Homo sapiens: one gene and its partner. The protein of the gene in region 2 purifies or fractionates together with the protein of the main gene of each other region. This does not show direct contact. Each region holds a gene or a part of one and is shown on either strand. Other genes may lie near its edges. The genes, in order: MNAT1 and PCIF1.

What was found.
Region 1: the proteins of PCIF1 (region 2) and MNAT1 purify together in Homo sapiens (affinity purification with mass spectrometry; one large-scale study listed by BioGRID and IntAct). This does not show direct contact.

Annotation. Positions count from the first base shown.
Region 1 is NC_000014.9:60,811,225-60,815,043, reverse strand, and holds part of MNAT1 (CDK-activating kinase assembly factor MAT1), read right to left. Parts: intron 3,058-3,819; coding exon 2,917-3,057; intron 1-2,916.
Region 2 is NC_000020.11:45,941,139-45,944,957, reverse strand, and holds part of PCIF1 (mRNA (2'-O-methyladenosine-N(6)-)-methyltransferase), read right to left. Parts: coding exon 3,751-3,819; intron 1,862-3,750; coding exon 1,714-1,861; intron 1,619-1,713; coding exon 1,535-1,618; intron 1,293-1,534; coding exon 1,193-1,292; intron 91-1,192; coding exon 1-90. UniProt on the Homo sapiens protein: Cap-specific adenosine methyltransferase that catalyzes formation of N(6),2'-O-dimethyladenosine cap (m6A(m)) by methylating the adenosine at the second transcribed position of capped mRNAs.

The DNA of each region.
Region 1 (3,819 bases), on a different chromosome or scaffold from region 2:
TGTAACTCTTTGTATAAAATGATAAGGGGAAGAATCTTTCAATAAAACAATTATAATTAGTAACTATATACTAATAATTAGTAACATCAATTTACTAATTCATTTTTAAAGTTTTTAATTTCTCACCAAACAGCTACAAAAATATAAAATACAACATGTCATTTCACTGTTAAAGCCATACCTGCCACTTAATAGTTTCAAGAAAGAACTAATGAAAGTTGCTAGGGAAGGCGTCATTATTCTATTTAATATGCTGGTGTCCTCATTTTTAGAGCCAAATTCACATTCCAGTCATAGAAAATAGAGTTTTATGACAGTGTTTTCTATCTAAGCCTCATGAATGCCCTTACCCTTATTTTTCCTTTAGTTTCTCACCTCCTTATAATTTAAGTAATCTTGCTTTCTCTTTTTTTACTCCTGGTTAACTGACTTAAATGCTTTTTTGGCAAAAGCACAGTAGAAGAACACATATATACATATTTTCCCCAATCATAGGATAATAGCATTATCAACTAGACAAGAAAGTTAAGTGTATTAACACTGCATACACACACACACACACAAACACAAAAGCCTCAGGGAAATAAATTATATGAACATAAAGGGAAAGAGAAGAATGCAAAAAGACTTTCCTGGAGAGGAAGATTTTCCGGTTTGTGAAGTCATCAATATCATACAGGGTTATAAGTATCAAATAATATAGTAATAAATCCATGAAACACTTCATAAACCTTAGTTATTATTACTGTCATTATCTAACAAGGTTGACTACCTAGGAAGCTAATTGCTGGAAAACAATAATTTGCAAAAACCCCGCTATTTCTTTCAAGCAAAAATACACTATTTTTTTATGCAAAAATATAAAATATATTGTCACAAAGTAAACAGTCAATATAAACTTCAGCATGGAGCCAAAATGAGCTCATTATTAGAAAAATAGTATTAATCAGGAGAAAAGTGCTTCAGAAACAATGTATTTTAGTCAGTTAGCTTAAAGCCATATAAACAATCTATCAAGAATATACTGGCTCATCTCAGTTATAATGTCACTCTCTCATCTGAAAATAAAATGGATATTAAACAAAAATCTTTTTAAAAATATAGAAGTAAAATATACTAGAACCTCATTTTAACATCGTTCTTAGAGTTACACAAAGTAAGTAGTGCCATGTCCACAAACAATACTCTTATCTAGGAAATCACTTTAAATCCTTCATAGTAGTTGGCATGATATAAATAAATAGGCATAAGGGTAAGACAAACTACAATATGAAAATGAAAGTCATTTTCATAATTCTTATCACTAAACTCACATTGGGATAGAGACTGAGTATCCCAAATGAATTTATATTATGCCAAATTCTAGAAAAACATAGTTTTCCCCAGTACATACTGTGTGGACTAAAGATGGCCATCACACTCCCATTAGGAGGTGAGATCTATATCCATTCCCTTTGTAACTGAGTGGGCTCTTTTACTAATATGGTGGAATCAGTGCTGTGCCAGTTTCCTAGCCCAAGCCCTAAAATGTTAGCATCTTCTACCTCCTTATTCTTGGGATATTCTCTCTTGTAACCCTGAGCCAACATGTGAGAAGTACAATCACACTGTTACAGAAATTGATGCAGTTTCTGATGTAGTCAGCCCCTTCACTAGATTCACGGTAAGGACTCCCCTCTACTAGACCCACTGCACTCAACTCTATGTGGGAGGGAGCACGTGGGTGAGTCAGCGCAGATCTAGCCAGCTGCTCCAAGCACCAATACAGGAACAAGTTTTGCATGGGGCCCGCAGTCAGACCAGACACAAGCAAGCAAGTGCAGGACCCAGCCATCCGCCCCAGGCACGGACACAGAAGCAAACTCTACGTGGGGCCCACAGCCAGACCAGGCATGTTGCCTCAAGGGGAACATGGCAGTGCCCAGGTGAGGGGGCCCACAACCCCAAAGCCCCAGGGGAAGTGTTACAGTGCTCCTTTAGTTCTGCCATCAGACAACAGTGTGTTGGCAGCTCAGTTGGCTTCTGGCCTTGTCACCTAGGGCAGCTGCTCTCCACCAGGAAGGGCAAAGTGCCAGTGTGACAGCCTTTCTGGGTACCCACACTTGGTGGGTCCCAAGCTCTTGTCTGGCATCCAAGAAGAATGAGGTCACAGGGATGGTTAAAAGATGGCGAAGGTGATAATTTTATTGAGCGATGAAAACAGCTCTTAGCAGAGAGGGGAGCTGGAGAGGGGACAGGAAGAGCAAGTCGTCTTCCCCGAAGTCAGGTTGTCTCTTCCTCTACTTACTGAGTCTGGGGTCTTTATAGGCACAGGATGAGGAGAATGTGCTGAATTAGCTTATGAGTAAGCAAAAAAGGTTGAAGTGAAGACACTACTCAAAGATGGGCATGACAGTGTAGAAAACCAATTAGGAAAGGGTAGATATACATAAAATAGGTGAAGAGTGGGGATCAATCAGAGGAAAGCACACCAAACAGGAGGACAAGTTCTCAATCTGGTCCAAGGATTTAACTTGTAGCTTGGCTTTCAGGTTTTAAACTGTCTTCAACATGGAGATGGGGTTTCTCTGGGTACCCGTCCCTATCTGCCTAGGCATTTGGCTGCCTCCTGTCGCTATCAAAACCACATGGAGAGGTGTCCTGAGAATACATTAGGGAAGCAGAAAAGCCCAAAAGAACCACTTAAATTCCTAACCCACAGAATTGTGAGCATAAAAACATATTGTTCAGTGTGGATGGAGGGCAACCTCTTATTCAGCAATAAATACACTGATATCAATACATAACCAACAAAACTAAAGGTGAACCAGATTACAAACACTGTGGAAAAGCCCTTTAAATGCCATCATCCAGCCTACTAGGAAAGGTAAATCCTGAAGAATGTTTTTTACAATCACAATTAGCATTAATACATACCAGCTCATCTAAAAAAGCCTGCTTATTCTTCCTTTTTAGAATCTGCTGCAGTTGTTCTTCTTTTTGTATAAATAATCTTCTTTGTTCATTTTCCTGTCGTTCCACTTCTAAAGCTTCTTCCAGTTCTTCCTGTTCTCGAGTCTAAAACAAAAATTTATATATGGCGTGGAATAAATTTAGGAGCCAAGAGCAATCATATACCACACTCTAATACTTTCTTTATTGGAAGCATAAAACACACTAGTCACTTATTATTTAATAATGTAGCAATTCCATATTGAAGAAAATAGAATTTACTTTATTTCATGTAGACACGTTACTATTAAATAAAACAACTATTCTGTTATACCATACTAGTGGAATTTTGCTATACTAAGGCCACTGGGAACATATTAAGGGAATTTGAGGGATGAGTTTAGAAAGATGACTAGAGGCAGTAAGGTATACATAAAGATCAATTGGGTTCAAGACTGACAATAGGAGGACTAGTTAGAAGTATATTCAAATAACCCAGATAAGAAATAAGAGCCCTACGCAGCGGCTCACACCTGTAATCCCAGCACTTTGGGAGGCCACGGCGGGTGGATCACAAGGTCAGGAGTTCGAGACCAGCTTGGCCAACATGGTGAAACCCTGTCTCTACTAAAGATACAAAAAATTAGTCAGGCATGGTGGCACATGCCTGTAATCCCAGCTACTCGGGAGGCTGAGGCAGGAGAATCGCTTGAACCCAGGAAATGAAGGTTGCAGTGAGCCAAGTTCACACCATTACACTCCAGCCTGGGCAACAGGGCGAGGTTCCATCTCAAAAAAAAAAAAAAAAAAAAAAGAAAGAATAGAAATAAGAGCCCTAAATAAAGTAATAATCTAATTAGAGTGGGGATGAGGCTTAAAAATGATAAG
Region 2 (3,819 bases):
GTAGATCTTACTGCAGATGCCTTCCACGGAGTCCTTGGCTGCGGCCGAGACGTGGGGGCCACACTGCCTCCGCAGATGCTCCAGGCGATCCTAGAGGACACATTCTGGATCAGGGCGCTAGTGGAGGCCAGAGGGGCTCAGCTGGGCTGGCAGGTAACCGCAGGGCTGTTGGAGTCCAGCAGTCCTTGTTTTGAAACCAGCTCTGCTGCTGACTAGCTGTGTCACTTGGACAAATCCCCTGGCTTCTCTCAATCTTATTCCTCAAGTGTCAAGGGGACACGAGATACCTAACAGGGCAGTTTGAATATTAAATGTGATCATTTCCCTTAAGGGCTTGCCAAATGCCTGGCATACAGTAAGTGTACAATAAATGCCAGTAGCTTTTGTTGGGGTTACACTGCTAGATCCCATGATAATTACCGGAGAAACAGACAAACCAGCACAGTCCCAGCTTATGGTGTTTGCAGTCTATTGGGGAAAGACACAATTACAAAACAGGGTGCTTGGTTGCTGCAGACTTGAGATTTGAGCTTTTAGCTACTTGCAAAGATGACTGTCGGGATTTGTAATTTTGCTGAATCACACGTGTAAAACTGAAGAGTGAGAATGAGTCACTCTGGCTAGTGAGTACACCTACCTTTGTCACTCTCTACGTGTCAAGTACACAGTTACTATCGTGAAGTGCGAAACCTTGTCTCTTGTGAAATATGGTCCTGAAAAGAAAGCCCATTGCTAGTGCTGGTGGAGAGGTTTAAGAAGTGATAGGTTTTGGCCAGAAAACAGAACTGTTTTGGACACATTAAGAGTAGGGAATTGAATCTGATGGTAGCTCTTAACCATGATATGAACACACACACCCAAAAAAAGCAGGCTGTCAATCTGTTTCCAAAAATCTACAAGGGAGATGCTGAACATTCATTAGGCTGAAAGGCAGCTATCTGTGGTGTGTGGCCAAGCATAAGACTCCATTAAGATTGTTAATGGAAATGTTCTGTGGGAGAAAGCCAGGAGCCCAGAGAAACATCTCCACAGTCATGAGTTTGGGGACTGACGAATGTCGAACGTCTGCCATACTGCACAAGAATAGGCCGCTGGGGGAGGCCTTGCCCAGCCTGGACAGGCAGAGTAGGCTTCCTGGAGGAAGTGGCCACAGAGCCCTAAAACTGGCCTTCTCACCCGGGGACCCACTCACCATGTAGTCCTCCTTGGAGGCTGAGTGGTCCTTCCGAAGCCAGCTAAAGGTGTCTTCCACATTCCATTTGACCACCTTCCTACTGTCAGGGGATGCACTCCTGCCAGTCAAGGGGAGGGCAGAAGAAAGGAATGGCTTGGCTCCACCCTCCTCATCCCAATTCCATGGGCTCGCTGGGTATCAACCCCTAGCTTCCATCACAGCCCTTGTTCTGCCTTTGGGAGCTGGCCCCACTTCTGCCACCGAGAGCAATGACAGCCCTGCATGAGACTGGGCAAGATGGCCTATGACCTGCCACTTTAATCACAGACCCATCTCGCCTGGGGCAGAAGACAGGCAAACCTGGACTCGATGAGCCGCCTGGCGGCCTCCGCATATTTAAAGAGCAGGCGCTTGGCTTCCTCCCGGAACTTGATTCGGGATAACCTGCGTTTCAGAGTGGGCAGAGTTAGAGGCCTTCTATACATGACTGGGCACAGAAACCAAATGGCCCAGGGTCATCCCCAGCTGTGGAGCTGTACCTGATAGGAATGTCGTTCATGATTTCACGAAACATGGAAGGTGACACGACTGGTTCACAGTTGCTGGGCAACAGGGGGTCAGATCCTTTGTCTACCACCTTGCGCTCCAGCATCCAGCGGTTGAAAGACTCCCGTGGAGGCTCAATGCCTGCAGGACAGGAGAGCTGCTGAAGGCCTGGATTTAATCAAGCAGTCCCACTTGGAGCTTGGCACGTATAGGAAGCATCGCATTCAGCAGTAAGCAAGACACAGTCCCACTTCAGAAGCTTCTAGGCTGCATTTCCCAAAATATATTCTAAGAATCACTAGTTTTATAGTGTTGATAAGTATCTAGCCAGGCGTAGTGGCTCACATCTGTAATCTCAGCACTTTGGAAGGCTAAGGTGGAAGGACAGCTTGAGCCCATGAGTTCAAGACCGGCCTGGGCAACACAGTAACAGCCTGTCTCTACAAAAAAAAAAAAAAAAAAAAAAAAAAAGAAATTAGCTGGGTGTCCCAGCTCCTCGGGAGGCTGAGGCGGGAGGATCGCTTGAACCCGGGTGGCTGAAGCTGCTGTGAGCTGTGGTCGTGCCACTGCACCCCAACCTGGGTGACAGAGCGAGACCTTGTTTCAAAAGAAAAGAATAAAAAGGCTGGGCGCAGTGGCTCACGCCTGTAATCCCAGCACTTCAGGAGGCCGAGATGGGTGGATCACCTGAGGTCAGGAGTTAGAGACCAGCCTTGCCAACATGGAAAAAACCCATCTCTACTAAAAATACAAAAATTAGCTGGGTGTGGTGGCATGTGCCCATATTCCCAGCTACTAAGGAGGCTGAGGCAGGAGAATCGCTTGAACCTGGGAGGCAGAGGTTGCAGTGAGCCGAGACCGTGCCATTGCACTCCAGCCAGGGCAACAAGAACAAAACTCCATCTTAGAAAAAGAAAAAAAAAAAAAAGTATTACATAATGTAAAAAAAAAAAAAAAAAGGGTGGGCCGGGTGCGGTAGCTCACGCCTGTAATCCCAGCACTTTGGGAGGCCAAGGCGGGTGGATCACAAGGTCAAGAGATCGAGACCATCCTGGCCAACATGGTGAAACCCCATCTCTATTAAAAGTATAAAAATTAGCTGGGCGTGGTGGCAGGCACCTGTAGTCCCAGCTACTCAGGAGGCTGAGGCAGAAGAATCGCTTGAACCCGGGAGGTGGAGGTTGCAGTGAGCCGAGATCACGCCATTGCACTCCAGCCTGGGCGACAGAGCGAGACGCCGTCTCAAGAAAAAAAAAAATTAAAAAAAAAAAAAAAAAGGTGAAAGGCCAGAGGATTCTATATTTGAGCAAGGTTAAATAGGTTTATTACTAATCATAAAAATTAAAAACTAGGCCAGGCATGGTGGCTCACATCTGTAATCCCAGCACTGTGGGAGGCCAAGGCAAGCAGAAGGCTTGAGCCCAGGAGTACAAGACCAGCCTGGGCAACATAGCCAGATCCTGTCTCTTAAAAAAAAATTAGCCAGGTGTGGTGGCTCATGCCTGTAATCCCAGCACTGTGGGAGGCTGAGGCGGGCGCATCACAAGGTCAGGAGTTCAGGACCAGCCTGGCCAACATCGTGACACCCCCATCTCTATTAAAAATACAAAAATGAGCTGGGCATGGTGGTGTACACCTGTAATCCCGCTACTCGGGAGGCTGAGGCAGGAGAATTGCCTGAACCGGGACCCAGGAGGAGGATGATGCAGTGAGCGGAGATGGTGCCACTGCACTCCAGCAGGGGCTACAGAACAAGACTCCATCTCAAAAAAAATAAATAAATAAAATTAAAAACTACAGTTCATTTAATACTTATTCATTTTACTTAATGGTTATCATAGAATCCTAAGGTATAGATACTCTTGTTTTTTTGAAAGAGGGTCTTGCTCTGTCACTCAGGCTGGAGTGCACTGGTGTGATCATGGCTCACCACTGGGCCCCACTCCGCCATCCCCAAACTGGCCTGGCCAAACCTGGCTCATGCTAAAGGTGGGTGGAAATAAAGGAGGCTGCAGCCCAGAGGCAGGTACCCTCTCGCTGCTGGCACAGCTCCCGATAGTGCTGCCGAAGCTTCAGGATGAGCTGAGAGCGGAGCAGTT